Linked DNA regions of Homo sapiens: region 2 is linked to region 1. The links come from fine-mapping of genetic effects on gene expression. A gene starts in region 1. The other region holds a variant in brackets. All regions are shown on one strand. Distances are from middle to middle. Region 1 holds the start of MR1 (major histocompatibility complex, class I-related). Region 2 overlaps MR1 (major histocompatibility complex, class I-related).

Region 1 (15,912 bases):
GAGACAGACTGGTGGGAGAGACACACAGTGAGAGAAGGGCACAGGTTGCCATAGAAACACAGCGACAAGATACCAGTATATTTGTGTGTTTTCGGGGCTGGGGCAGGGGGTTCCTAAGCAGTGACTAGAAGCAGCCAGGAGAAGGGGGCCATGTTGCTGGAGTAGAAGGAAAAGGATGGGGGCAGCAGGAGCTAAGCCTGGAGGTGGACAGGGTCAGATTATCAGGGCCCTTGTTTGTAATGTTCAGAATAGTGGACGCTTCCTATGGACAGTTCCCCATGGGGACTGAGGGAATTGACAGGGTCAGATTGGCATTTGAGACAGATGCTTCAGTGGCTAGGAGGTTATGGTCCAGAGGAGGGATGAGGGTATCCTGAGCTGGGCTTGTGACAACTAAGGTGGAGAAGAGTGATGCATTTGAGACATACTTTAGAGGCAAAGTTAGTATACTTGGTGACTGATTGGTTCAGGGTATGGGGGAATTGATGAAAGAAGAGGGAGGAAGGCTTCTGGGGTTGTAAATGGGTAGTGTTGGTTCCAACCATCAAGAAAGAGAACACAAGAGGAGGATTTGATTTAGGGTGAATGTAAATTAGCTGTTAGCATGTCATTTATCCCCACCAAACAGTAAACTCCTGGAGGGACAGGATACTATGTTAATGTTATTATCACCTAAGTGCCTGACACGGCCTCTTATTATCTGTTCCATGAATTTCTTAATTGGACCACATATGACAGGCCAGAGTTTTATAAGTAGTAATAGAAGATAGAGGACAGAGGCTTGGGTTCCCATAATTAGGGGATTAGAAAAAGCACCAACAATGGAGATAGTGGAGTGTCAAGATATAAAATGTGTGTATGTGTGTGTGTGTGTGTAGGTGTTCCTTTCTTTAATGTGTCACCCTCCTTTACCCTCTCTCAAACTAGACCTTGGCCTCCACTGCCCACAAGGAAAGGGAAGCTATGGCTAAAATGCAAGGAGAAACAAAGGAGGTTCTTTCTTTCTTTCTTTTTTTTTTTTTTCATTTAATAGGACCCACGTCCTGGCATAAACAATAGGTTGGGAAGAATACTCAGCAAAAACCCATCTCTTCCCACACCCCCACCCCTACCCCACCCCCAACCCAAAAGAATAATTTAAATTTCTCAGGGAATAAAAAATCAAAACAGTGGTTGTCTTGGGGGACAGAGTTTGACTGGGAAGGGAAACTTTCTTGGGTACTAGAAATGCTCTGTATCTTGACGGAGTGTGTGTTACATGAGAGTATCATTTGTCAGAATTCCTCAAACCGAAACTCTTAATTGGACTTAACTTCTGTTCATTTTTCTGGGGGAGGTTGACATGCCAACTCTGAGCTTTCTGTAGAGTTCTGAGTGGGCAGCCAGGAGAACCTCTGGTTCCTGAGTGAGTCTCCAAAGTTAGGAGAGTGAATGAGGAAGGGAGCACACTGGGTCCTGCAATGCATCTTCTGCAGAAATAAGGAGATGGCAACACAGAGAATAAGGCACAGGCAGCCAAATGAGCTGAGGATCAGAAAGGAGCCAACCATATCACTGGGGATGCCAGGATAGACCTGAGAGGGATTGCAGTGGGTAGCCACCCCCTGCCCCTGGAAGCTGCGGGAATGCCATGACACCCCTACAAGGGGATCTCCCCTACTCTGAAATAATGACATTCAGCCTGCTCCTTCACTAGCCTGTTATAAGGAACAACTGGATCATATATGGGAATAATTTTTTATTTTTTAAATTTTTTATTTTTTAAATTTATGAGGCCGGACATGGTGGCTCACACCTGTAATCCCAGCACTTTGGGAGGCCAAGGCGGGCAGATCACAAGGTCAAGAGATCGAGACCATCCTGGCCAACATGGTGAAACCCCATCTCTACTAAAAATACAAAAATTAGCTGGGCTTGGTGGTGCGTGCCTGTAGTCCCAGCTACTTGGGAGGCCGAGGCAGGAGAATCACTTGAACCCAGGAGGCAGGGGTTGCAGTGAGCCAAGATCACGCCACTGCCCTCCAGCCTGGCGACAGAGCGAGACTCCATCTCAAAAAAAAAAAAAAATTTAATTGTGGTAAAATACACATAACATAAAATTTACCATCTTAACCATATTTAAGTGTACAATTCAGTAGTGTTAAATATATTTGCCTTGTTGTGCAACCAATGTCCAGAACTCTTTTCATCTTGCAGAACTGAAACTCTATACCCATTAAACAACTCCCCATTCTCCCCCAACAATCTCTGGCAACCACCATTCTACTGTGTGTCTCTATGAATTTTACTACTCTGGGTACCTCACATAAGTGGAATCATACAGGATCTGTCTTTTTATGATTTGCTTCTTTCAGTTAGCATGATATCTTCAAGGTTCATTCATTCATTCTACATATTGCAGAATTTCCTTCCTTTGTAAGCCTAATATTCCATTGTATATATACCACATTGTGCTTGTCCATTCATCCATCAGTGGACGACACTTGGCTTTCTTTCATCTTTTGGCTATAATGAATAATGCTGCTATGAACGCTGGTGTACAAATATCTCTTTGAGACCCTGCTTTCCATTATTTTGGATATATACCCAGAAGTGGAACTGCTGGATATGGTAATTCTATTTTAAATTTTTTTGAAGAACAGTCATATTGTTTTCCATTTTACATTCCTGCTAAAAGACACACGCATTCCAATTTCTTCATATCTTCATCAACACTTGTTATTTTCTGGGTTTTCTTTTCCCTTATAGCAGTTGTACTAATAGGTGTGAGGTGGTATCTCATTATGGTTTTGATTCACATTTCTTTAATAATTAGTGATGTTAAGCACCTATTCGTGTGCTTATTGGCCATTTGTATATCTTTTTTGGGGGGTGGGGAGAAATGTCTATTCAAGTCCTTTGCCCATTTTTGATTGAGTTGTTTTGTTTTTGTTGAGTTCACCCTAAATCCTTCTTGAAACAAGGTAAAGAAAGGGAGAAAAGTGTTAACATAGATATAGGATATCATACTCTTCATCATTATCCAACCTTTTAGAAACCCTGATATACATGTACATATTCCAGAACATTCCACTTATGTTAAGTTCCATTGATCTGGCTATGACTGTCTATGTTTCCTACCTCCAACCACAGAAAATATCCATACACATATCCAAAACACACTGGCCATGATTTATTTCCTCTTCCTGTTTGTTACCAACACCTCCACCACTGTCACCCTCTACACACTGATTTAAAATAAACAAGGAGGAATTCCAGTCAATTTACATATTCAGCACTAAGGAATGATGGAGAATTTGTGGAACATCCATTTGGTGGTCATTAGAAATGTTGTTTAAAAGTATGTAATGACATAGGAATGGCTTGAGTAAAAACAGCAAGACACAAAATTATACATATGATACAATTTCAGCTCTGTTCTTTCTTATACATTAAAATGTTTTGGTACATAGAAAATTTTTACACGTAGGAAAAAAGAAATCTATTTAAAGTTTGTCAACTACTACAGTGAAATATTTACTTGGATAGTCAGAAATCCAAAAAGTTTTTTAAAAAGAAGAGAAAAAGTAATAAAAGAGAAGTGAAAAGCCAAGTGACCACATACGAAAAAGTACATCAAAAGTTAGCAGTTTTCAGCCTGAGCAACATGGCAAAACCCCATCTCTACAAAAAAAAAATACAAAAATTAGCCAAGTGTAGTGGCTTATGCCTATGGTCCCAGCTACTCGTGAGGGTGAGGTGGGAGGATCACTTGAGCCAGGAGGCAGAAGTTGTAGTGAGCCATATTCACGCCACTGCACTCCAGCCTAGGCGACAGTGAGACCCTGTCTCAAAAAAATAAATAAATAAATAAATAAATAACAGTTTTAAATCCTGTTTAGAATAAGGCAAGTTAGGAGGGTCTGAATGAATGGAAATTGGTGAGTACTAAAAAGCTGAAATACGTTATTGGAATTCAGTGAATTTCTTGACAAGACGGTGGATTTGAACCACTATAGGAAGGGGAGGTATGTTCTTTACCATCCTTTATGAATGTGACTGTGTATAAGGAAAGAAAAATCAATCTGTGTTGGTAAACTGGCTCATTGCAATAATAGTACTAGTGATTGCTAATATTTACATACTATGTACCAGGCATTGTGCTAAGTGACCGATGTGGTTGGGCTGTGTACCCAACCAAATCTCATCTTGAATTCTCATGTGTTGTGGTGGGAGGGACCTGGTGGGAGGTAATTGAATAATGGAGGTAGGTCTTTCCCGTGCTGTTCTCATGATAGCGAATAAGTCTCATGAAATCTGGCAGTATTATAAGGTGGAGTTTCCCTACACAAGCTCCTGTCTGCCTGCTGCCATCCACATAAGATGTGGCTTACTCTTCCTTGCCTTCAGCCATGATTGTGAGGCCTCCCCAGCTATGTGGAACTGTAAGTCCAATAAACCTCTTTCTTTTGTAAATTGCCCAGTCTTGGGTATGTATTTGTCAGCAGTGTGAAAACAAATACAGTGACACACATGCATTATCTTCAGAAGCTCCAGAATCCCCATATGGGGCAGGTTTTAGAATGTAATTTGGTTGGACAGCAGGGCTAGGGGACTTGATGTGGCATGGGAGACCCCTGTCTTTTCTTTTTTTTTTTTTGAGATGGAGTCTCACTCTGTCGCCCATGCTAGAGTGCAGTGGTGCGATCTCTGCTCACTGCAAGCTCTGCCTCCCAGGTTCACACCATTCTCCTGCCTCAGCCTCCCGAGTAGCTGGGACTACAGGCGACCACCACCACGCCCGGCTAATTTTTTGTATTTTTAGTAGAGACGGGGTTTCACCATGTTATCCAGGCTGGTCTCGATCTCCTGACCTCATGATCTGCCCACCTTGGCCTCCCAAAGTGCTGGGATTACAGGCGTGAGCCACTGCGCCTGGCCTCTTTTCTTAAATTATAGGTTTATTTGGGATTACTTAAGACAGCTGATGGCCATTATGCGTGTGTAGTAAAAGTACTCTAATGCCCCAACAAGTGACAAGTCACTTCTTGGTTCCACCACTGCTGATTTCATTGAATCCTCACAATAATCCTGTAAGGCAGAATTGGTTATTACCTCCATTTTCTATGAGAAATCCCAGACTTAGAGAAGTTAATAATTTGGTCAAAGGTCACATAGGTAGGAAATGTCAGAGCCTCATTTGAAAATAAGTTTGACTCCTGAACCCATGTTCTTTGCTACAGTATTCTACTCCCATTTGTACAAGGACTAGCCTTGGCCAAAAATTGGCAAATGGATTTTACCTACCCACAGAAAAGGGCTCAAATCAAACTCGACACAGACACAGACACAGACACACACACACACACACACACACACACACACACTTCTACTGAATTAAAAAAGAAATAGCCAAGGGGAAACTACTGATTAAATATAATAAAATATATTATGTTGAAAACAACATTATTTAACAAACAAGACCCTTTTGCTAACTTGATAATTCATCATTTGGTTTTTAAGGATGAATTGCACTAACTGCAAATGAGTCAGATTCCTCAGAGGGGCCTTAAAATACATATAATAAATCAGGTATTAAAAAGCCAAACACATAAAGGGATTTATAATGAACAGGATAAGCACAACCCACTCTGAAAAGTGCGGCCTGAGATTTAAGTTTAGACTATTGCTCAGAGGTGAGGCTTGTTTTTCCACAAAGAGAATGCGAGGGATTCTCCCTACCTCAGTGCCTCCCAGCTTAGTGGGGCAGTCTTACCTGTCCTTGAAGATCTTGGCATAATTGAATCTATTAAAAATTTTAAGGACTATTAAAGCTATGCTATTAAAAACTGCATATTAATATTGGAAAATATAAATTTGAAAAGAATTTACAAAATACTATTAGGACGTAAAACCCTTTTTTGGTAAAATGAACAAATAAAGGTATGCTTATATGCAGACATATGTAGTCAGCAAAACCACTGAAAAGAAATACACTAAAATATGTTAACAGCAAATTTTTTCCTTTCTTCCTCCCTCCTTCTCTCTCTCCTTCCTTCCTTCCTTCCCTTCTTTCTTTCTGTTGCCATGGTTGTAGTACAGTGGCGTCTCAGCTCACTGCAGCCTTGACCTCCCTGGCTCAAGCAATCCTCCCACCTCAGCCACCTAAGTAGCTGAGACTACAGGCGCATGCACCACACCTGGCTAATTTTTTGTATTTTTAGTACAGATAGGGGTTTCACCATGTTGCCCAGGCTGGTCTTGAACTCCTGGGCTCAAGCAATTTGCCCACGTCAGCCTCCCAAAGTTGGGATTACAGGTGTGAGCCACCATGCCCGGCCAACAGCAATTTTTTCTGATGGGTGATTTTTATCTTATCACTCTCTGGGTTTTTTATATGTATTTGCCCTGTACTCTGGATTAAATTTACTAATTTGCAATTAGAATACAATGACTTAAAAAATGAAAGACATCGGTCAGGTGTGGTGGCTCACGCCTGTAATCCCAGCACTTTGGGAGGCCAAGGTGGGTGGATCCTGAGGTCAGGAGTTCAAGACCAGCCTGGCCAACATGGGAAAACCCCATCTCTACTAAAAAGACAAAAATTAGCTGGGTGTGTAATCCCAGCTACTCAGGAGGCTGAGTCAGGAGAATTGCTTGAACCTGGGAGGCGGAGGTTGCAGTGAGCCGAGATGGCACCACTGCACTTCAGCCTAGGCGACAGAGTGAGACTCTGTCTCAAAAAAAAGAAAGACATCGTTGACATACCTACATTTTTTTTTTTTTTTGAGATGGAGCCTTGCTCTGTCACCCAGGCTGGAGTGCAGTGGCACAATCTCAGCTCACTGCAACCTCTACCTCCTGGGTTCACACCATTCTCCTGCCTCAGCCTCCCGAGTAGCTGGGACTACAGGCACTCACCACCACGCCTGGCTAATTTTTTGTATTTTTAGTAGAGACAGGGTTTCACCATGTTCCAGGATGGTCTCGATCTCCTGACCTCGTGATCTGCCCGCCTCGGCCTCCCAAAGTGCTGGGATTACAGGCGTGAGCCACCGCGCCCGGCCTCATACCTACTTTTTAATGTCAGTACAGCAGGTTATGGTATGGAATGCATTTTGGAACAAGATATTAACAAAAATTCAAAGGAAAAAATACATGGCCATGGAATTCCAGTGCTGAGAGACATTTGGGAATATTGGGGGAGTTTTCCAAAAGAGAAATCCAGGTGACTGTATTTGTTAAATGAGTAACAAAAGGAAAAACAATGTAAAGAAACAGAAAGGAAAGGAAGAGAGAAATACAAAGATCTGAGAAGAGAAGGTGCCAGGGGCCGCTGAGAGATTGCCAAATGTTAATTTCATTATTTGGCTTCTTATTTTATTCTGGGTAAAGGTAGACCTATTAGTTTCCTGTTGCTGCTATAACAAATTACCACCAACTTAGTGGCCTCGAACAATGCAAATTTATTCTTTCAAAGTTCTGGAGGACAGAAGTCCAAAAATGTGTCCTATCAGCTGAAATCAAAGTGTTGTGTTCCTTCTGGAGGCTCTAAGGAGAATCTGTTCCTTCTCTTTTCTAGTTCTAGAGGCCATCTGCGTTCCTTGGCTCATGTCCTTCTTTCAGCAATGGCATCATCACTCTGACCTTTGCTTCCATTGTCACATCTCCTTGACTCTGACCCTTTTGCCTCCCTCTAATAAGGCCCCTCTGATTACACTGGGTCCACCAGATAATCCAGGATAGCTCTCTGTCTCAAGATCCTTAATTTAATCATATCTGCCAAGGGTTTTGTTTTGTTTTATTTTGTTTTTGCCATTTAAGGTAATATATCCACAGGTTCTGGCAATTAGGTTGTGGACATCTTTGGGGCGACAATTCTCAACCTACCATACAACCGGTACATAAGGTTCTACTACCTACTAAATGCATCATAAACAGAACTTCTGATCCTTCAACAACTCTGTGAAATATATGACAGGATTTGCTTTTAAAGTTGAAGAAATCAGGCCTTGGTGCAATTTGGGATTCTGCCCATGGTCAAATAGTGGGGAGGCAAACCCAGGTCCCTGAACCCAGCTCAAGCCTGCCTGCCTCATGGCCATGCCTCCATTCACCTCTCCCCTTCATGTCTACTTCCTCTTTCCTGTCTGGGCCTGTTCCCTAGCTCCCTGGACAAGCTTAAGCTGCTGTTTTCCAGCTTGTCATGTGCTCCTTATGACAGTGTAGCCACAGCTTGATCTTGGGGATTGCTGATTGAGCAAGCTGAGTGGCTGCCCCTCAGAATCTTCTGTAGGCCTTTCTCTTGCCTTCTTTTATTCAGTAAGTGTTTTGAGCTTATTGTGCTGGGTGCTAGAGTAGCAGGGAGGACAGACCTAAGTTGAAGATTACGGGACAATCTAAGTGACACCTGCTATCTCAGACAGAGACTTCAGCATCATAGGGAGCCAGAGCAGGGAGTTCCAAGCCGTGGGAACTGTGACTCTTTCTTACTGACCCTTAAGCAAAATTCTAAGCTCCAGGGAAGCAGAGGCAGCAGCTTGAGCTCCCTGATTGACCAGATATGATTAATCTTTGTTTCTCTGTGCTTTGAACATGACTATGCTCCATAAATATTTAAAAATTGGGAATAGGGTGAAGATAGATACACCAAAAGGAGCAAGCAGTGTCTGAAACCAGCAAAGACTTAAAAGTTACCGAAGAAGGTGTTCATGCTTTCATTTTATCTTTTTTTTTTAACCTAGCAACTGATGACACTGCATATCTTCCCCTGTTCTTATTGGGAGAAGGCCTTGTGTGTCACCAAGAGGTTCTCAGAAGGGACCTGTCAGTTTTTGGTTAAAAGAACCCGGAAAGAGAAGGACTATGGGGGAACTGATGGCGTTCCTGTTACCTCTCATCATTGTGTTAATGGTGAAGCACAGCGATTCCCGTGAGTATCCCACGTCCTCTTCTCTCCTAACTCCAAAGTCGAGGCAGCCTAGAAGGCACAGCTTTTCTTCCTAAAACTTGTGGTGAAAAATATAGAAGCCAGGGGCAGAAACGTGTATGTATTACACTCAGACTCCAGGAGCAATGGATTGCCTGAACAGTTTCCCAGTTCATATTTGTAGGATTTTGATGTCACCACCTTCTGAGGGAGGGGGAGCCGTTCTAGAAAGACTCTGGAACTTCCTCACTTTCCCTCTGAGCATGGCCTCCTTTCTTTTCTGCTCATATTTTTTCTTTTACTTTTGTTTCTCCTCTTTTCTAACTTCCAGAGTCTCATGAGGATGTAGTCAGAGTTTCAGGGGCATTAACAGTGGAGTAGATCCATTGTTCAGGTTTATTTATGTTTTTCCTCAACACAAGCCCTACCTGTAATAAAAGATCCAAGAAAGATAAAACCATGGCTCTGGGTTTGTTTACTGACTGTGAGAAGTATTAATCAAGTAGAAGGGAGAGTTTTTCATTATTCGGGGAGCTCAAGTCACTGGGGAAGCAAATGCCTTCTGTTGCCTCAAATAGGGGAAAGGGCCCATGGGCTAGAACCACCAGGCTTCTCTGCCCTAATCACTTGCTCCCTGGGCTGAGGACTGGTACTGGTGGGCAGTGTCCAGAACTTAGACTTGGCCACCACCATAGGTGTGACTGATGAACATGAGAGGAAGGAGTTCTTTCAAATCACCCATGCACATAGAGAGTGGAATGACTGACCATGGAGATTTGGAAGGGCGAGGGGGGTGGATGATTAGAAATTACTTAATGGGTACAATGTGTGTTACTTGGGTGATGGATACCTTAAAGCCCCAACTTGACCACTACACAATCTATGCTATAACAAAATTGCATGTGTACATCATAAATTTATACAAATAAAAAAATTTTAAATCATATGGCTGGGAGTGGTGGCTCACACCTGTAATCCTAGCACGTTGAGAGGCCGAGGCAGACGGATCGCTTGAGGTCAGGAGTTTGAAACCAGCTTGGCCATCATAGTGAAACCCCATCTCACTAAAAATACAAAAAATTAGCTCGGCACACCCATCTCTACTAAAAATACAAAAAATTAGCTGTGCACAGTGCGCACCTGTGATCCCAGCTACTCGGGAGACTGAGGCAGGAGAATCACTTGAACCCAGGAGGCGGAGGTTGCAGTGAGCCGAGATCATGCCACTGCACTCTAGCCTGGGTGACAGAGTGAGACTCCATCTCAAAAAAAAAAAATCCATATATTAATTGTTCAAATATTGATTGATGGCCTACTATGTGCCAGGCACTTTGGGGGATATGGCAGCGAACAAGACAAACATAGTCTCTGCTTCCATGAAAATTTAATCCAGAAAGTGTCATCATTTATGGGAAAGATTGGGGGTGAGGGTAAGAGGCAGAAGATGAAAGAGGAAAGGAGGAGAGAGGCAAAGGGTGATATTTTTGGAAATAATAAAGCTTATATATTACCTGCATGTGATTCTCAAAGAACTCTCCAATAATATGGAATAATATTCCTTAAACATATTATCTCCTATGACAATCTCACTGACTATTTGTAGTAGGTGAAGAAAATATCCCCATTTAAAGATGAGGCCTAGATTTTTCTCTAGGCCTAGAGAGTGACCACGCTCACATAAGGAGCAACCTGAAGGAGACTGCAGATCTTCTGGCCCTCGGTCCAGGGCTGTTCCACAATGTCATTGCTCCTTTGGGTGTGAAGACTTGTCACTTTGATAATTGGGGGGACAGGAAATAAAACAAGTAAGTTATAAAGGCAAGGGAAGGTCACTTGGTGCTGGCTGTTCTCCTTCTGACTCCTTAGAGTGCATCCTTCTCTGTTCTGTTCTGTGTCCTTGAGGCTGACTGCTAGACTGCATCACCTAGACTCTCTTGCAAGCTGATTTCTGCTTGGGTTCATACAATGGGAGACACTGAAAGGAGAGATGTCAGAGAGCAGGGAGGAAAGAGAGGCTGGGATACATCTTTCTTGCTCCTTCCCCACTTTCTGTGATGTCTTTGGCAGTAGCTATGTTCTTCTGTAATGCTGTCTTCCCTGAATAACCCCTTCTTCATGGTTCTAGCTCCCATTGGGCTTCAGTAACGGTATTTGCTATTCTTATCTCTTAAGCCCTAGGGGTGATAATGGCTTCCCATAGTTGTTAGCCTGCAGATGCCCATCATCCTTGTTTGTTCCGTTAACCTTGACCATATCTCTGCAAGGAGTCCCTTCATTAAGGTCTCCTCACATGACCCATCTGGCTTGAAGGCTGTTTCCTGCTAGGACCCTAACTGAACATTCCTGGGCTTTGAGGGATATTGGCTGGAAAAGGATATGAGATTATGAAAGAAGACTCAGTCTACTTGATATTTATGCCTAGTGCTAGCCCTGAGTGGGAGCTATATACCAGTAATAGATGGGGAAACACGGGGAAGAGATACTGCAGGGTTGTGGGTCATTACTCCAGGAAATGTCAACATAACTCCAATATCACTTTCAGTGTGTTGCTTTCATCAACTCCACAGCCTGCAGTTGACTCCTCCTTCCTTTGTGCTCCCATGGCTCCTGTTCACAGTTCTGTAATTTTCCATTTACAAAAATCTTCTCTTTGAGGCTCTCCTTAAAGACAGAAAGAGATATCTTCATTTTTTTCTTATTTCTCTGGTATACCTAGTGCCCAACAGGCACTTAGTAAATGTTTGCTGAGTGAATTTATGTTCGGAGGTAATGTCCCTAAGAAATCACAGTTATTTGACTGGGAGCCATAGAGAGCTCGGGCAGTAATAACGACTGCAAATTCAAAACTGTGGCTTACTGTAGTTGCAGGATTTGTATTAAAAAGGTGTTTCATGCTTTTACAACTCATCTTGTTCTTCATTTCAGCCTGTGTGAAACTGTGAATTGGCGATATGGGTGGGTGTAATCAGACTGGGGGCTGGCATGAGATTTCTCATGCATTGCCATATGTGATTTGTATGTTTCATCTCGACATAACCAAGGTCAGTCTCTTGATATTACTCATAATTTTATGGCTGTATAAATCTGCTATATCAATCTACTTCATGAATGGTGGAGTCCTTCACAGGCGAGGTCTGATGATGGATAAGCTCCCTAAGCTGCCAACTGGGTTACTGTTAAAAAACAGACTTGCATATTATCTGCTTAGAAGTGACCTTGAGTTCAAAGAGTTAACATGAGAAAATATGGGCTTTTTCTTTAGACTTTATTAGATAGACTTCAGTCTGTTTCCATGGAGCTGTTGCCAAGGTATATGCCATAGAAATTTCTCCAAGACAATGTTTCACTCCCCTAAGGCCCTCTTCTTAATTGGCATTGAATCTATCTAAACTTGAGAAATTCAACTAATTTGTAGATTTTTCTTTTGACTAGTTGAAATATCTGTCTATTCTCACTTGACCCCAATCCTCTTACCCCACAGTATTGCTAAGAGCTGGAGGAAAGGAGCCTAAGTTAAAGATCAAACACATGACTCTTTGAACACTTATTTTAGGGAACTCAAATTGAGAAAGATGACAAAGGATGTTTTTTCTGATGTATGAATTTATATTTATCGGGGAAAATCTTTCAAGAGTATACATATTAAGTCACATTTTGTTATAACTTCAAAGGATCATTTTAGAAAAATAAAATTTATAAAATCGGGATTTTCTGGGAAACATAAGACATATAGTCATCATTGTGTACAGAGAGTACTGAGGGAAAAAAGACACCAGAGCTCATTCATTCGTTTTCCAAAACTCCACATAGTCCTACAGGGCTCACTTTCTTACTCCATTCACATCTCTGCTCAAATGCCACCTGCTGTGGTCCCTCTATCTAAAAGATCAGGCCTTCTCCTCTCCACACTCTCTTTTCTCTGCTTTACTTTTCTTCATAATCTTTATCTCCACCTGACCTTGTATTATATATGTATTTATTGCCAATCTCCTGTCTAGAAATTATCTCACAGGGCTGGGACTTTCATGTGTTCATTGCTCTGTTTCCAGCAGCTAGGACTGTGCTTATTGGACATTCAGAAAAGAATATACCTATATGAAGTGAGACATTGGCAACCTTCAAAAGGGTAGCCTCAGAAGAGTAGCTCACAAGCCAAACTTGTCACAGTCGCCACTTTTATGCTCTAAGTTCCTGTAGTTAGTTAGACATGTCATTAGGAGAGGGGACTAATGGTTCTTGCTGCACATAGAACCATCCATGAACATGGCCTGAGATGTGTCCAAAGGTCCCCTTAACTAAAAATATTGCCACCTACTTCTCCCCTCATTCCCACGATGCTCGAAATTCTAAAGAGTCATTCCCAGGAATCATAATCATTTTGACCTTATTAAGGCATTGGACTTCTTGAGAGAGCCAATAAATAATCAGACTGTGTTGACCTGGTTATCCAATCAGGACTCACGGCCACCTGTGTGTAGGAAGGTCTGGAGCCTGTGGCCCCAGGGACTGGGAAATCAGAGGCAGTGAGTCATCCTTGACACAAGGGGGCAGGAGAGAGCAGTGATAATCCAGGGGCTAGAAGCCTGGCCTGGAAAGCTTCCCCTACACTAGGGAGGGTTGGGTAGTCTCAAGGTAGAGGGACTTCCCATGGAGAGATCACAGTGTGATTCCTGGTTCCTTCACTTATGGATTCTGAGGATGATCTTGGGCAATTAATCTCTCTGCACCTATTTTCTTTTCTTTTTTTTTGAGATGGAGTTTTGCTCTTATTGCCCAGGCTGGAGTGCAATGGCGTGATCCCGGCTCACTACAACCTCCGCCTCCTGGGTTCAAGCGATTCTCCTGCCTCAGCCTCCCAAGTAGCTGGGATTACAGGCATGCGCCACCACACCCAGCTAATTTTTTGCATTTTTAGTAGGGACAGAGTTTCTCCGTGTTGGCAAGGCTGGTCTTGAACTCCTGACCTCAGGTGATCCGCCTGCCTTGGCCCCCCAAAGTGCTGGGATTACAGGCATGAGCCACCACACCCGGCCTCTCTGCACCTATTTTCTATCTGTGGGTTGGAATTATAAGACCTACCTCAAAAGTTTGTTAGAAGAATAAGTGAAACCCATGCTTATCAAGGGCTTAAAATGGTACCTAACACAAGGTATGTGCTCAATAAACAAATACAGTTGTGATGACTATGATTAAGATGCTGCTGCCCTTTATGCCTCATTGAAGGCCCATCTGATCTGCCACCTCCTTGGAACATTTCCCAGTGGATCCCTTCTCATGGGACCACGGTCTCTCTTCTCCTAGTGGCTGGAGCACTCCATTGGTACTCTTTTCTGGCGCTTGCTGCTTGTTGCCGTGTGTGGTGGAATTCATTTATTTGTTATGTGCTTTAGCTCCCCAATAATACTGTAAGTTCCTGGAGGAAAGAGCTGGTATTTGATTTGTTCTTCTCTTCCTAACATTGCCTCCAATTCCTTGTACATAGTAGACACTAAATAAATAATTGCCCCCATGAGGCCGGGCGCGGTGGCTCACGCCTGTAATCCCAACATTTTGGGAGGCTGAGGTGGGTGGATCACCTGAGGTCATGAGTTCGAGACCAGCCTGACCAACATGGTGAAACCCTGTCTCTACTAAAAATACAAAAATTAGCTGAGTGTAGTGGTGGGCGCCTATAATCCCAACTACTCTGGAGGCTGAGGCAGGAGAATTGCTTGAACCCAGGAGGCAGAGGTTGCAGTGAGCCAAGATCATGCCACTGCACTCCAGCCTGGGTGTCAGAGCGAGACTCCATCTCAAAAAAAAAAAAAAAAGAAAAAAGAAAAGAAAAATTGCCCTCATGGATGAAGTGAAAACACTTCATCAATTATTTTACAATCCAGTGATTTTCACAGCCTTTTGTAAGAATGGCCCAACTGGTTAATGGACAGGTTAAAGGGAACATGATTTAGAACTATCAAGTAGCCATTGCACCTAGCCTAAGAGTTTTTGGTTGTGTCGTTCGGGTTCTCCAGCACTATCTGTCAGAAGCTGATGAGACTGGGCAGGAGATGCCTTTTGAGAAGTAGCTTGACTGGTTTAGACAGAATACCAAATTCTAAATTGTATATTTCAGCTTAATAAGTGAGTTGATGCTGATGATCTATCTGTTCATGGAAAGGGAGAGAGAGACTTAATTTCAAAATTATTAGGGCGAGAAAAGAGAAATGGAAGATTAGATCAAATGATATGAAATTGCCATTTTTATAGGTCAAAAATGGTAAAATATTGGCCTTTCCAAATGATTCGAAATCTGATTATGTCTGCAACAAATCCTGGTGGGATATAAATTATCACAAGTTTTAATGTACTAGGAGAGAGAGGGTACCTGGACTTTTCCTCATCTTTTCTGTTGTGAGTTACTGACTGAACATGTGTCAATCAACTTCCCACCACAGCAGAGGTAACATTTTAAAGGCCCAGCTAAGGAGCAAGCATGACTTGTTCCTGTGGAGGCACCAGATGGGTAACTGGGCCCATGGCAAATGAAGAGGAAGGGACTGTGATGTCCTGGAGCAGAGCCACGCTGGGCTGAACCAGTGGTGGATGGGTGTGACTGAAAAAGCAAGTCCAGCCTTTAGGTGCCTGGACTTTGAAGTCAAGGCTGGCTGGTGGAGAACAACTGTTTCAAAACCAGGCATCAGAATTAGATTGAAGTTAAAAAAAAAAAAAACCCAGAAAGAAAGAAAGACACAGCCAGGCACGGTGGCTCATGTCTGTAATCCCAGCACTTTGGGAGGCCAAGGCAGGGGGAATCATGAGGTAGGAGTTCAAGACCAGCCTGGCCAACGTGGTGAAACCCCATCTCTACTAAAAATAAAAAAATTAGCTGGGTGTAGTGGCAGGCGCCTGTAATCTCAGCTACTTGGGAGGCTGAGGCAGGAGAATCGCTTGAACCTGGGAGGCAGAGGTTGCAGTGAGCAGAGACTGTGCCACTGCACTCCAGCCCGGGTGACAGAGTGAGACTC
Region 2 (15,912 bases), 26 kb after region 1:
GGTTGGGCATGATGGCTCATGCCTGTAATCCTAGCACTTTGGGAGGCTGAGGCAGGAGGATTGCTTAAGGCCAGGAGTTTAAGACTGGCCTGGGTAACATTGTGAGACCCTGTCTCTATTAAAAAAAAAATTAGCTGAGCATGGTGGCACATGACTGTAGTCCCAGATACTCAGGAGGCTGAGGTGGGAGGATCTCTTGAGCCTGGAAGGTCAAGGCTGCAGTGAGCCATGATCATGATCAGCCTGGGTCACAGAGCAAGACCCTATTTAAAAAAAAAAAAAAGTATTAATGATAAGATTCCTTTCAGCAAAGAGCTCCTCTTATACCTTAAAGATATGATTCAGTTGGTCAACTTTTAGTTCATATAGAACTTTTCATGTATGGTCTTGTTATTCAAAATTAATCACACCTGTATGATGCTACAGGAAACTCCTAGATACAATGTGTGTGGGAAGAGTATGGGAAGCTCCCCTCTCCAGGCCTCTGTCTACATTCAGTGTCCTAATGGATTTTCAACCTTTTGGTCAAAACACACTCCTAAAAAAACAAACAAAAAAAAAAAAGAAAAGAAAAAACACATTCCTAGAAAAGGATCTTGGATTAATTTCTTACAGGCCCTATCAAAAAGCACAGTCCCTCCTAGTAGCATTTATTTTACTTTTAATGTTGGAAAGCCTTTTTCTACTACCAAATATCATGCCTCGGTAAAGAGACAAGGAAAGCATTGTTGGAGTGAAGGCTCTTCTCCGTATTGGGTTGGCCGATGATAAGGTGGGGGTCAGGAGGCAAGTCAGAGATGAGCAGGAAGCAGTCCCCCCCAGATAGTGCCTTTGGTCTCGGTATGGCTGTTTGACCCAATTTCAGCAAGAAACATTAAGGACAGGACTGTATGGAAAATTAAGAGTAGTCATGAGGAAGCAAGGTCACACGTGGGTACTTCTTTGGTGTCACTGCTGGAGCCCTTCTATGATATCAGTTTCTTCGAAGGCACAACCATGGCATGATCTACTACATATGTTTGTACCTGATGGCAGTCATCAAAATGCCAGCGCAAGTACACAAGGCAATTCGGAGCCAAAACTGAGTGGGGATGGCTGTGTTATTTACGTGCACTAAACACAGAAATGAGAACAAGGAGTTCTAATCTCCAATCTATTGCTGACTTACTTATTGGGAACAGTCACTTACACATTTTATGGGTCAGTTTTCCTTGACACATAAAGGTATTTCAAAGGTTACTAGTAAACAACCCCAGCACACTTTCCAAACAGTCAAAGCTGTATGACTTTCCCCCCTTAGAGGATGGAGCATGGGCCAACTCCACATTCTTCACTACCTAGCACCTTGCCATCATGGAAGGTATACGTAAATACGTTTGTTGTTGATGAACCTGAGTTCTGGGTCATTCTTAGCTTTAGAAGTTTCCTGCAATAAAGAAAAATTAGGAAAGCCAGTTGCCAAGTTCTAATATTATATGCTCAGTACATAAGGCACTTTGATTTAACTTTAGCTTCTTCTTCCTAGAGCCCCCACTGGTCAGAGTAAATCGCAAAGAAACTTTTCCAGGGGTTACAGCTCTCTTCTGCAAAGCTCATGGCTTTTACCCCCCAGAAATTTACATGACATGGATGAAAAACGGGGAAGAAATTGTCCAAGAAATTGATTATGGAGACATTCTTCCCAGTGGGGATGGAACCTATCAGGCGTGGGCATCAATTGAGCTTGATCCTCAGAGCAGCAACCTTTACTCCTGTCATGTGGAGCACTGCGGTGTCCACATGGTTCTTCAGGTCCCCCAGGGTAAGGACGGGGATCGTGGCTGTCTAGGGAGAGAGCCTGGAGAAAGGGGTGAGCAGGAAACCATGCTCGCTGCCAGGGAGGGGAGGATAGATCACTGCCTCACTCAGTGTGCCTTAGAATGGGTCTTTTAAATAAGTGGTTCTCACACTTTTTGGAACCAGGACGCCTTCATACTATTAAAAAATTATTGAGGACCCCAGAGAGCTTTTGCTGATGTGGGTTATATCTATTGCTATTTACTACATTACAAATTAAAAATTTAAAAATTAAACACGAATGGGTGCAGTGGCTCATGCCTGTAATCCCAGCACTTTGGGAGGCTGAGGCAGGTGGATCACTTGAGGTCAGGAGTTCGAGACCAGCCTGGCCAACATGGTGAAACCCCATCTCTACTAAAAATACAAAAATTAGCCAGGCATGGTGGCGCATGCCTGTAATCCCAGCTCCTGGAGGCTGAGGCAGGAGAATCGCTTGAACCTGGGAGGTGGAGGTTGCAGTGAGCCGAGATCGCACCACTACACTCCAGCCTGTGCGAAGGGAGCAAGACTCCCTCTCAAAAAAACAAAAAAACAAAAAACAAAAAAACACAACCCAGGCGCAGTGGCTCACTCCTGTAATGCCAGTACTTTGGGAGGCTGACGCGAGTGAACTGCTTGAGCCCAGGAGTTCAAGACCAGCCTGGGCAACATACTGAGATCTCATCTCTACAAAAAACACAACAATTAGCTGGGCATGATGGCATGCGCCTGTAGTCCCAGCTACTGAGGAGGCTAAGGTGGGAGGATCGCTTGAGCCCAGGAGGTTGAGGCTGCAGTGAGCTATAATGGCACCACTGCACTTCCACCTGGACGACAGAGTGAGACGCTGTCTCAAAAAAAAAAAAAAAATTAAACACAAGAAAACACAAGCAGATATTCCATTAGTGGTCAGATTGATGAGTGAGAAGCAACAGTAAGGAAAATGGTGTTGGGTTTCCTGATGATCACAGGGACAAAAGTCCCAGAAAGTTAACACAGAAGGGAAAGGGGACTTGTGGATTTTTTCTCATTTGCTTGCTTTCAGAATCAGAAACTATCCCTCTTGTGATGAAAGCTGTCTCTGGGTCCATTGTCCTTGTCATTGTGCTGGCTGGAGTTGGTGTTCTAGTCTGGAGAAGAAGGCCCCGAGGTGAGAGGCACATGGAAGGGATCCAGGGGGCTGCAGACTCTCCTGCATCTCTCCAGTTTTATTTTCTGCACCTGCTGCTCCCTCCTCCATTCAGAAATGGCTTGGCTCTCAGGCTGGGATCACAGAAGGACCTGGGACAACCCTCCCACCATGTAGGGGACACAAAGCATGGATAAAGCTTACAGGGAGAGTGGTCTCTTTTCATAGGTGATGCCTGACATCAACAAACTAGTACATCTGTCCAGGGGAACTGTCCCCCTAGAAGTTGGGTCAGAGAAGATATGGGGATCTTGATTTGTCTTTTTCCAAACCATCTTTTTATTATTAATTACTATTGACTTCTGGGGCAGTGTCCTTTGTTTCAAGACTTCAGTCAGTTTTCCCATTTTGACCACCATTCTTTCATCCCAAGCATATGAAAGTCCTTTTCCTTGTAAATTCATTATTCAAAACATTAAATATGTAAGAGTAGATACCTTCAGGGAATGGGACTTAGAGTAAGGAAAAGGGGAGGAGAAGTAGGAGATATATAGGCTCTTGATAATGTGGAATAACATAAATTCATTCAGTAAGTATACATTAATGACCTACTGTGCTCCAGGCACTGTACTGGTTGCTGGGATATAACAATGAACAAGACAGATACGATCCCTGTTTTCATAGAGCTTACAATAGAGCCTGGTAAGGTTATCTCCTGGCTCTGGCTTCACTAATTGCTCAAATTGATCACAGGATAGTACCGATGAGACCATGCTTTGAACCCAAAGTGGACCAGAAGTTTGGTTTTCCTTCATAGACATAGACCTCAACTCCAATTCAGGTGATAACTGTACAAAAGCATGTTGTTAGATCAAAGTAAAACCAACCCTTTTACTAGAAAATCAGCTCAGAGGCCGGGCGTGGTGGCTTACAACTTGTAATCCCAGCACTTTGAGAGGCCGAGGCAGGCGGATCACTTGAGGTCAGGAGTTCGAGATCAGCCTGGCCAACATGGTGAAACCCTGCCTCTACTGAAAATATTAAAAAAAAAAAAATTAGCTGGGCGTGGTGGCACATGCCTGTAATCTCAGCTACTCAGGAGGCTGAGACAGGAGAATCGCTTGAACCTGGGAGGCGGAGGTTGCCGTGAGCAAAGATCGCTCCATTGCACTCCAGCCTGGGCAGCAAGAGCGAGACTCTGTCTCAAAAAAGAAAAAAGAAAAGAAAAGAAAAGAAAATCAGCTCAGAGAGTTAATGGGTTGTTAATGTTTTCTTTATAGATAAAGTACAGCACTAATCCTAATCCAATAAATGATAGTGAAACAAACAAAAAATTTTTTTACAATGACATCCCTCTCTCAATAATTATACAGACTGTGAGTTCCTGCTTTTTATCTTATAGAGTTTACAAATTTGAGCTAAAGTTTGTCAAGTACTAAGAGAATCTTGACAAAGCAAGCTAAAACTGTCGATGCCTGTTTCTCAGATTTTGCTGAACACTGCATACTTTATTTTTGAGCTGTGAGGAAACATTCTTGTAATCTGACTAAAAACCCCTTTCCTTTCAGAGCAAAATGGAGCCATCTACCTTCCAACACCAGATCGATGATTGCAGATCCCTCTTTTCCAGTTCTCCTTCCTCTAGGAGCCATGTTATCCTCTGTCCCCCATAGAGTCAAGCCTAGTGCTTGAAGGTCCTGACGACACCCACAACATACATGAGAGTAATGGGATTGAGCATTTATGGCAGCAACAGAGGAGCCACAAAATGTTCTTTGTTCTTTGGCTCCAAAAAGACTGTCAGCTTTCAGTCTCTTTTGATGGACTGTTTTATCAGAGTTGACTTTAAATACAGCTTGTCTCATGACACAACGCTTCCCTACATTCTATTTGTCAATGATGATTTGCAACTAGTTGGAGATTCTCAGAGCAGGAAGGAATCTTTTCAACCAGAGCAGGAACTGTCTTCTGCAATGCCTTGGACTTGAGCCTCCAGCCTCCACTTGAACACCATGTGAAGGGAACCTCAGTACTTCATAAAATGGCCTTTCTCATTCATCTTTCATGGGAACATTTATTGTACAAGCGCTTTGAATATCATGGGCACCATGACTGTGACCCTACAGGTAGGATTGGATCACTCCATGAGAGTAGCCGGCAGGTTTCTACAATGGCCTGGGAATGGACTGATTATTTTTATACATTTTCTGGCCTGAGAGAAAGCCAAAGTCCCCTGCTGTTCACAGCAACCCTGCCTGGGAGCTTGGAATCTTGGTAATCTGCCCGGTTGGATCTATGGAGGTAGTCTCACCCTTTTTGTCTTTTGTGGGAAATTAAGAGAAATAATTATCAGACATATCATCACCTCCAGTGGAACTACAGAGACCTGGACCCAGCTGCACTATTTTAATGTAAAAATAACAGTATGGCCAGGTGCAGTGGCTCACGCCTGTAATCCCATCACTTTGAGCAGCCAAGGCGGGCGGATCACGAGGTCAGGAGATTAAGACCATCCTGGCCAATATGGTGAAACCCTGTCTCTACTAAAATACAAAAAATTAGCTGGGCATGGTGTTGCGTGCCTGTAGTCCCAGCTACTTGGGAGGCTGAGACAGGGGAATTGCTTGAACCCGGGAGGCAGAGATTGCAGTGAGCCGAGATCACGCCACTGCACTCCAGCCTGGCGACAGAGTGAGACTCTATCTCA[A/AAATAAT]AATAATAATAATAATAATAATAATAATAATAATAATAATAACAGTATATTTGGTGTCAGGAGAGGGCTCAATTCTCATTTCTGCCTTTCCTGTGCTGGCTCATGGTAGCTGGGCATGACTTGCCTTCCTACATAGGTTGTCTTCATACATATGCACTGGGAATCAATAAAAGCCCATGGTGAGAATGAACATCCCCTTAATGTTCCTTACTATCCCCAACCCCTGAGGCCTCACCTACTGCCCTGCCATGTGGAGCTACTTGCCCTGGGGCTGCCAGTCACACATTCCTCGGTCCTACTTCTCTGACCCCGTTTGACTCTGCACCTGAGCCCTAATGCTTACTTCAGTGACCTGAACTTTGACAAGTGGCTTTTGTCCTGCACCTCAGGTTTGACCTCTGCTCTCCCTTGACCTTGACTGTGACATTTGACCTTTGGCTTTAATCATTACAGCCTCAGATAAAGGTACCTTCAGCCCGGGCACAGTGGCTCACGCCTGTAATCCTAGCACTTTGGGAGGCTGAGGCAGGCGGATTCCCTGAGCTCAGGAGTTCAAGACCAGCCTGGGCAACACGGTGAAACCCTGTCTCTACTAAAATACAAATAATTAGCTGGGCATGGTGGCATGTGCCTATAGTCCCAGCTACTTGGGAGGCTAAGGCAGGAGAATCACTTGAATCTATAAGGCAGAGGTGGCAGTGAGCCGAGATCACACCACTGCACTCCAGCCTGGGCAACGGAGCAAGACTCTGTCTCCAAAAAAAAAAAGAAAGATACCCTCAGTGTGCCAGGCCTCTAAGAGCTCACCTGCCAGGCTTCCTCCTTGCTCCACTGTCCCATGTAATTCCATATATGAAGCTACCACTGTACATCTCTCTTTTCCGGTGCCTGTTGAGTTGCATAGAAGCACAGTTGTGTTTATTTTGTTTTTAGGGTTGCCATGGGCAATTTCCGTGCCACTTTTAAGCAGTGTTGCACTGTGAAGAGAATGTAGGCAAGTTTATTTCTGGAATGGTTTCTTCTTACAATCAGAATAGTTAGGATGTAATATATTTTTGGGTGGGCATTTAAAGTGAAAAGGTACATATTTACATAGACACAGGTGATAATGTATCTATGTAAATGCCTTTTGATTCTGCAACTGCAGGATACTCTCATCAAAGACACAGATAAAAAGCCTCTGTGTTTCCAAGGCCTTGCCCTACACCTAACACATAATATGTCCAAATGGATGAAGAGGAGGCAAGGACAAGGATGTGATGACAAAACATTCTGTTATGCACTTGTAGCATTTATGTTTCTTCCTGGGGGATTTTATAATACTAAAAGAATCATAATATAAAGAGATGATTAAAAAAAAAATACTGCCGGGCACGGTGGCTCATGCCTGTAATCCCAGCATTTTGGGAGGCCGAGGTGGGCAGATCACCTGAGGTCGGGAGTTCGAGACCAGCCTGACCAACATGGAGAAACCCTGTCTCTACCAAACATACAAAATTAGCCGGGGATGGTGGCGCATGCCTATAATCCCAGCTACTCGGGAGTCTGAGGCAGAAGAACCGCTTGAACCCGGGAGGCAGAGGTTGTGGTGAGCCGAGATCGCGCCATCGCACTCTAGCCTGGGCAACAAGAGTGAAACTCCATCTCAAAAAAATAAAAATAAAATAAGTAAGTAATACCTAAAATTCTGCAACCTTCATTTTACTATAGATGGTTGAAGATTATATTACTTCTTAATTGTTTTAGCCTTGTTATTGCTTCATTACTTCATGGTTGTTGAGTACAGATGCTCAGTAATCATAACCTATGAAATATTTGACACCATGATCTAAACATTAAAAACAAATAACTGTGCTATTGCCACAGCTATGTTTTGGCTTTGAATTTTCTTTACTGAATATTTTGGATCAAGAACACTAGATGAGAAACCTGTTCAACTCTGTTCTTTTTTTTTTTTTTAACTCCACTGTATTTATTACCTGTTTTTGTTTTTTTTGTTTGTTTGTTTTTGATGTGCATATAGACCAAGATGTGGTAAATTTAAATGGCAGATGTTTTTGATGTGGTACATTTAAGGGAGAGAAAGCAGTTTAAAGAGCAGGGTGAAAAATCCAACAAGACTCCATCGAGAGTTTCTGAGCTCTCCCATCAGGGGCCAGTCCTCCTTTCCTCTCTCCTCTTACTCCCATGATTTCCAAGTTGTGATCCTTTCCTTATTTCTGAGGAATGACTTGGTTTCTCCTCTTCTTTTTTTGGCCTGAGAGAAGATGTTTTTGCACTTGTAGCTATGAGGAACAGATTGTCCACTAGGGAGGCCAGCTGATCATTTTCTGCCAGAGTCACACAGAGCAGTCACACCTTATTTTGAAAACCACTGTCTGGGGTCTTTGTCCTCACATATGCAGGTCTAGTGTCCCCACAAAGTGATCAGATGGATATATAAAGTGGAGTGCCAATGTATTAATTTACTGTGAGAAACACAATTGCTAAGTGGGTCAGATATCTGTCTCAGCTGGTCAGTACACCTTCCAGCAGGAAAATCTACATAAGAACAACTAAATCACAATCTGTAGAGTGCTTGATGACCCCAGAATTGGTGCAAGGGGACACATTCTTGCTTGTTAGCACCTGCTCTCTGGAGTTTGCTATTTTCTCACACACAGTGTATTAGTTCACAGAATGTTCTCCAAGGAGGACAGGGGGCTTTGCCCATAGCCATGTGCTGTGGGCAGCAGAGCTAGGAAGAAGCACAGGCATCTCCCAGCCCAGGTGTTTCCCACTTAACTGCATTGCCCTTTTCATCTTTTTTTTTTCCCCAATAGCTTCAGGACATTCAGTACATTGTGCTTTTTAGAGGTTGATGATTCCACTGCCTGAGCTGCCTTCACCTCTCTTTCTTTGGAAATTGCCATCTTTGAGCATTGTATGTCTCTGTAACATCTCTGCATCTCCTTTTCACTCTGGCCTCCCTTTCTCCATTGTCCTTCTAGCTTCTGGTTGCCCCAAACCCCACAGACTGTGTAACAAAACCCAAAACCTATTGGTTTAAAACAATACCCATTTTATTTTCTTTCATAGTTTCTATGGGTCAGGAATTTGGATATGGCTTGGGTAAGCAGTTCTGGCTTCTCATGGAGTTGGAGGCAAGTGGTGGCTGGAACAGAAATGGGGCAGCCAGGGGTGGTGGCCAGGCATCAGCTACATCTCCTCCATGTAGTCTCAGGAACTCTCCATGTAATCTCTCTGTGTGGGTTGGGCTTCCTCACAACATGGTGGCCTCAGGGCAGTCACTGCTTACATGGCAGCTAGCTTCCCTCAGAGTGAGTATCCCAAGAGATCACAGTCAAAGTGCATAGCATTTATATAATCTAATCTTGGAAGTCACAAAATGTCATTCTTGTGATACTCTCATTGGTGAAGAAGTCATAAAATCCTGCTCAGGTTCAAAAAGAGGGTGTATAGAACCCAACACTCAATAGGAAGATTGTCAGAGTTACATTGTAAGAAGAGCATGTAGTTGGGAGATATCATTGTGGCCATTTTGGGAAAGATGCAACATGTCACAATGTCATGTTCTCCATCGTCTCCCCGTTCCACCTTGTACTGGTTTCCAAGGGTAGTCGTTTAAAAGTACCACAAAAACTGGGTGGCTTGGAACAACAGAAATTTATTGTTTCACAGTTCTGGAGGCCAGAAGTTCAAAATGAAGTGTTGGCAGAAACATGCTGCCTCTAAAGGGACTGGGAAAGGATCTGTTCCAGGCTTCCCTCCTATCTTCTGGTTGTTCCTTGCCTTCTGGCTGCGTAACTCTAGTCTTCATTTGGTGTTCTCCCTGCATGCATGGCTTTGTGTCCAAATTTCCTTTTTTCATGAGGCCATCAGTCATACTGGATTAGGGACCCACTCTACTACTGCAGGATGACCTCACCTTCCCAAATTACATCTGCAACAACCCTATTTCCAAAGAAGGCCACATTCTGAGGTACTGGGGGTTATAACTTCAACATGAATTTTTTGGAGGAAACAATTCAACTCCTAACACATCTCTACCCAACCTCTGTAGGTTCCCTCAATCCACCAAAATTTTTTGGCTCCACTGGATTATCTAGCAGTTAGGAAACCAAGATCATTAAATGAATTCACCGCAACTACAGTGAGACTGACTACCTTAGCTTACCTCTGTGAAAGGAGTTAAGCCAAAGGAATCTGTGGAATTTTGGAGAGTTTGGGAGCATTTGGGGGCAGGAGGCAAATGTTCTTCCTTTAAATCACAACACTTAGTTCTCTTCCATTTATAAGACTCACCCCTCCATCCCAACCCCTGCACCACAGGACAAGGAAGTGTTCTTGGTCTTCAACTTTCATCCCTGATGGTGAAAGCAGTTGCTCCTGACCTATTTGCCCACCAGCTTCTCCTCTGGAGCCTGAGGCTTCTGATGCCTGCCTGGCTGGTTCTCAGTAAGAAGGTCAAGTTCAACCAGAGGGGAGATGCTGATGCCTTTCAGTACTTAAATATGAGTTCAGACCCTGGGGCCTGGACATAAGATTTGGGGTCCCCTGGATATAAGATTTCTGAAAACACTCAGACTGTGGAGACCCCTGCTGAGGGAGAAGCCCCAAACTGTGGCTTCAGGGGAATGCACCAAGGCTCTCATTGAGGCCACCTTCTCCAACAAGCTCCCCTCCTGCTTCCCCATGGCTGGCATGGCTGAGGAAAAAGGACACTGAGCACAGCCCGTGCATGAGCGGCTTGCCATGCAACAGGATAAAACCCATAATGCCACTCAGCAAGCCTTGGTTGTAAATCTAGTTTGATTACATTTGTAATCAAATGATGGCCATTTGTTCTGTTTCTGGTTTGTGAACCAACTGAAGACATAAGCAGGGCCTCAGCTAACCCACAAATAGCACATGTGTGCAAACTGGAAAAATGAACCCTTCTTCTGGGAGGACGCCAGCCCAGGCCAGGTCACCCGGCTTGGCCAGCAGAACACAGAGTAGATTTTGGTCCCGTTTGTTCCCCAGTGGGGTATCTATCCTTGTGCAGGGCACAAGCCTACATGGTGGCTCTGGTCATATCATTAGAAAATAGACAGAAATGGGCTGCACACCAGAATGAATGAATTGAATTGAAAGGGAGGAGTGATGGTGGAAAAAAAAACAAGTCAATTCATTTAGACTGGTAGAACCAGAACCACTGTGTAGTACATCCAAACGGTTAAAATTCCCTGGAAGATGTTACATAATCCTATCATGGTGTTTATTTATGGAAATCTATTTTAAAAATTTTATGTAATACTGCACAGTCTGTTTGCATGATGCCTTGTACGTAGTAGCAACTCAGTAAATACTTTTTGAATGAACTAGTATAGTATTTTAATTAGCTAGTCTTCATGTACTGGTACAAAAGAACAGTGTCATCTTACAGCTGAAGTCATAGAGGGGAAATATCCCACTCAAGATCATATAACATTCCAGGTACTCAGGATGAATGGTTTGAGGACTGGTCTGAATTCTTCAAAGGTTTCAGCTGTATTAACATTCTCCATCTAATAAACTTTATCTTGTCATTGCATTGTCTGTGAGATTAGTGATCTGAAACATTCCATCAATACCCCCACCCCACCCAACACATACATATTAAAGACAAAGATAGAATTCGGAGGTTCTTATGGGAGGTACTGTTTTTCTCGAAGGCTATGAGAAGAGGTGCTGAGAAATGAGTTCTCAGCCATCTTGGGGGCCCAAATATCTGAAACCTTCCAGAAATGTAACTAGTCTGAATTTGCTTTTCTGTCACCATTTGGGTATTTGGTTAATGAAAGTTCTTAACATGCAAATTCCACCCACTCTTACCAATGCCCTGAGCTGGGAAGCACCCTGAGCACTCTTACCACACCCTGAGCTGTTGCTTTTCCTCTCCGCCTTGCCCCCACTCCGTGTTGGCTGCACCAGCAGAGGCTTCTGCATTTGCCCCTGGGCGGGAGTTGGGTATGAAGGTCTGGGCCAGAAGGTTCTGAGTCCCTAAGCTGAGCTGCTGGGTGGCAGCTGGAAGGTCAGGCTGGCTGAAGCCCTGGCGAGGTGACACTGGGTCTGAGGCAGGTGCAGTGGCAGCGGCCAGACCTCTGAGGACACAAATGGGCTAGAGTGTGGGAACAACCGGGGAAACAACCCGGGGGTGGGAAGGGAGTAGGAAGGGGGGAAACAGCTTCTGAGAGGAGGCTACAGGATGAAATGGGAAGCCACGAAAATAAGGAAGTGAAACCAAGGGAGAAATAAGAGTGCCACCCAAGCCGAGGCCGTCCTGGCCTTTCTTCCTTTCTGAGGCATCAGCGCAGATTCTAAGTTTACTTGAACTAACCGAAAGCTCTGTTGTTTTCTGAGCAACATCACAGTGGCATAAATAGAGAATTCCTGGAACACACTGGCAAGACACACGCTCTAGAAGGTGACAATTCTGGGGAAATCTGAAGGGCTGGAATAATAAAAAGTCAAACATTTGGCATCCCATCAGCTGCTGAAACACAACCCTCTCACGTACTTTAAAATACCCAACACATGCACTCTGCATATTACTCACGAAACAGCTACGAATGCACAGTCCCTGTGTTACACACAACAGGAAGTTGCCAAACCAGATGTAACCCACCAAGGCCGAGCACATGGGCAGCCCTTCACCTTACTGTTAAAAGACTGAATGGTCATTGGTCCCTGAGGATCCCTGAAGAAGACAGGCAAGCTGTTCTAATCCAATTTAGGTCTTTGCAACTGAAATTGAGATCAAATTTCAAAGATCTGTAAACTAGTGCAGCTTCACAGACTTGAAATTAGTCTACAAGATGACATGTTTCTGGGCCTAATGATGACATTTTTAGAGACTGCCCCCAGCCACAAGGAATTATTCGTTTTTTCTGTGTGGCATGGTATACACCATATTTTCATTCAAGCCACAGAGTTTTTTTTACCCCAGTTTCTTATTAATAATCTGCCACAAATACTGATATTTAAATCAAATTCTTATGGCCTTCATTAGTTAATCAACCATTCATGAAATATATGCGCCATAAGGCCTGACACTTCAGTGCCTGGCACATAGTAGGCACTCAGTACATATGCATATTGACAAAATGAACTGCTGCTCCTACAAGCCAGACTCTGTAGGCAACACAGCACAATGATGTTCTGAAAATTAGCAAGTACAAAAATGGCCCAGACATATGCTTATAGAAAAATCAAGCTCACATCACAGAAAATAATTTTAGAGATTGTAATCTAGAATGCATTTCTATAAAACAGTCCCTGGGTTTTCTGCTAACAGAAGAAATACAACTCTGGCTGGGGGCACGGTAGCTTACACCTGTAATCCCAGCACTTTGGGAGGCCAAGGCGGGCAGATCACTTGAGGTCAGGAGTTCGAGACCAGCCTGGGCAACATGGTGAAACCCCGTCTCTACTAAAAATACAAAAAAATTAGCTGGGTGTGGTTGCTGGTGCCTATAATCCCAGCTACTTGGGAGGGTGAGGCAGGAGAATCACTTGAACCTGGGAGGCAGAGGTTGCAGTGAGCCAAGATTGCACCATTGCACTCCAGCCTGGGCGACAAGAGCGAAACTCTGTCTCAAAAAAAAAAAAAAAAAAAAAAAAAAAAGAAAAGAAAGAAAGAAATACAACTCTGACAGTGAGCTTTCATAGTAATACTGAAGACACAGGTTGAATAAAACTTTCAAGTGAGATGGGAGGGCCTGCACATAAATATGCCATGAAACAAAGGACATGGGGAGGATGAAGGGCTCAGCACTGCCTCCTTCCCTGCAGCCGCTGGGCTGGGCTAAGAGGACCCATAGGCAGTGGCGATGGCGACAGCAAGGAACTCAGAGATGTTCAGTGAGACAGAGGAACTTCTAATCCTCTAGTTTCCTTTTGTCTTCCTGATAGCCTATCCTCAGAGAAATAATTCCCTTACTAAACGCCTAAGTGCTTTTCAGCTCTGCCACTCAACTGACACTTAGCTATTCTGTGTTGGTATTTATCTGTTTCTGCTCGGCTTATCTCCCTGGCTGGACTATAAACCCCTTAAGGGCACAATGTGAATTCTGTGTCCTTCACTTAGTATCAGGGTGATCTTAAGTTGTTTAACTTCTCTGAGCCTCATTTTTATAAAACCCGGGGCTAGTCAATACCTGTCTTCCAGTGTCAAAGTGGGGATTAAAGGAGATGTGTGTGTGCAAGCATATTGCAAAGAAATGGCATCTGGGATGTGTCTTCCTCTACGTGCTCTCCAGGGACTGCTCCCCATGTCCCATATAATCGCAGCCACCATTTATGGGTGCTTACTATGCACTGGGTACTTCACATATATTACTTCTATTCCTCATAACAACGTTGGCAGCAGGTATTATTATTATTATTTTGTTGAAGTTCAGATAAATTGTATTTCTTGACAAGGTTATATAGTTAATAAGTGGCAGAGGCATGATTCAGACTCAAGACACTGTCTTGAGTCTGGGCACTGTCCTATCTGCACACAGGGCACTGTCCTATCTGCACACAGTAGGCCCACTCCATCAATGCCTGACCAAAACTGTGAGGTGTCATCCACTTAAAACTATTGAGGACTAAACTCTGATTTTTTTATCTTGCCCAAATTCTTATCTAAGGGGACTGGGGAGTCATGCTCTATAAATCATAAATTCTCATCAGATGGGTTTTATTTAACCCTACATATCATGATTTATTTTCCAACTTGACTCTGACATAACATTACCAGACAAAGAAGAAAATCAAAATATTTTAACCTGGCCAGGCGTGGTGGCTCACGCCTGAATCCCAGCACTTTGGGAGGCCGAGGCAGGCGGATCACAAGGTCAGGAGTTCAAGACCACCCTGGCCAACATGGTGAAACCCTGTCTCTACTAAAAATACAAAAATTAGCTGAGCATAGTGGTGTGTGCCTATAATCCCAGCTACTTGGGAGGCTGAGGCAGGAGAATTGCTTGAACCGGGACCCAGGAGGCAGAGGTTGCAGTGAGCCGAGATCGCGTCACTGCACTCCAGCCTGGGCTACAGAGGAAGACTCCGTCTCAAAAAAAAAAAACCCACAAAAATTAGATGGGCGCAGTGGCAGTCACCTGTAATCCCAGCTACTCGGGAGGCTGAGGCAGGAGAATCACTTGAACCCAGCGGAGGCAGAGGTTGCAATGAGCCGAGATCACGCCACTGCACGCCACTGCACGCCAGCCTGGGTGACACAGTGAGACTCCATCTCAAAAAAACATATATATATATGATATGTAATATATTTAATATTAATTTAAATATATCAATTTTAATGTAATTTAAATATTAATATTAATTTAAATATATATATATTTTAAACCTCAAAACATGTTTCTTTGCCTTATTTTGAATTGGCCCTGCAAAGCTGTTCTTTGTCAGGGGAAATTTGCATCTGTAAAGAATCTCTATTAACATAGCTAGATCTTTTTCTTCCAGACCCTCCCAATCCTAAAAAGATTAACTAAGATCTGAATAGGAAACATTTGTCCCCTATTGTCTTTAAGCCACTGTAAGACTTAAAAAGAACTTTGGTCTCCACAATCTTTATCTTAACCTGAACATTCCCTTTCTATCTATCCCAGGTCTTTAGGCAAACTCAACCAATTGTCAACCAGAAAATGTTTAAATTCACCTATAGCCTGGAAGCCCCCACTTTGAGTTGTTCAGTCTTTCTGGACCAAACCAATGTATTTTTTAAATGCATTCGATTGATGTCTCATGCCCCCCTCAAATATATAAAACCAAGCTGCTCCCTGACCACCTTGGGCACATGTTCTCAGGACCTCCTGGGCCATGGTCACTCACTCACATTTGGCTCAGAATAAATCTCTTCAAATATTTTACAGAGTTCGATTCTTTTCGCCGACACTATGTTCTGTACTTAATCTTGGGAACAAAGGAGTTCAAACATCTGTGCAATGAATCAAAAATTAATAAAGGCCCTGATAAATTTAGGAAAGTTTGAATCTTTTTCCTCTGACTTTGATGATGTGACTTAAAGGCTGAACAAGGCCTAAAGGGCCAAATGAAGCAAGTTACCACACATTTCATGGACATGTCAGTGAAACCCGTGGATAACATTCGCTACTTGTTGATTCTTAGTATATGGAGATGCTGGTGCATAAAGGAAAAAGTATAAGCTCCCTCACCTTGCAAAAACAACTCACCCAGGGTAGATCTATGGGCACACAGAATTGCAGAG

The links. PIP is the estimated chance that this variant, and not a neighbour inherited with it, causes the effect.
Region 2: its variant is fine-mapped to the expression of MR1 in whole blood (INTERVAL, PIP above 0.99).

What each region holds. Positions count from the first base shown.
Region 1 is chr1:181,025,164-181,041,075 of GRCh38, forward strand. It overlaps MR1 (major histocompatibility complex, class I-related), which reads left to right and starts at 8,820. Exons shown (of 6, transcript NM_001385161.1): 1 at 8,820-8,911. The coding sequence starts at 8,845. RefSeq lists enhancers at 8,000-8,189, 8,390-8,489, 8,620-8,729.
Region 2 is chr1:181,050,710-181,066,621 of GRCh38, forward strand. MR1 (major histocompatibility complex, class I-related) reads left to right here. Exons shown (of 6, transcript NM_001385161.1): 4 at 1,526-1,801; 5 at 2,864-2,968; 6 at 4,516-11,229. The coding sequence ends at 4,556. Among named protein-coding and RNA genes, the nearest start is that of MR1, 25 kb to the left of the region's middle. RefSeq lists enhancers at 11,319-11,448, 12,089-12,138. The variant A/AAATAAT (reference allele first, on the strand shown) is at 5,655.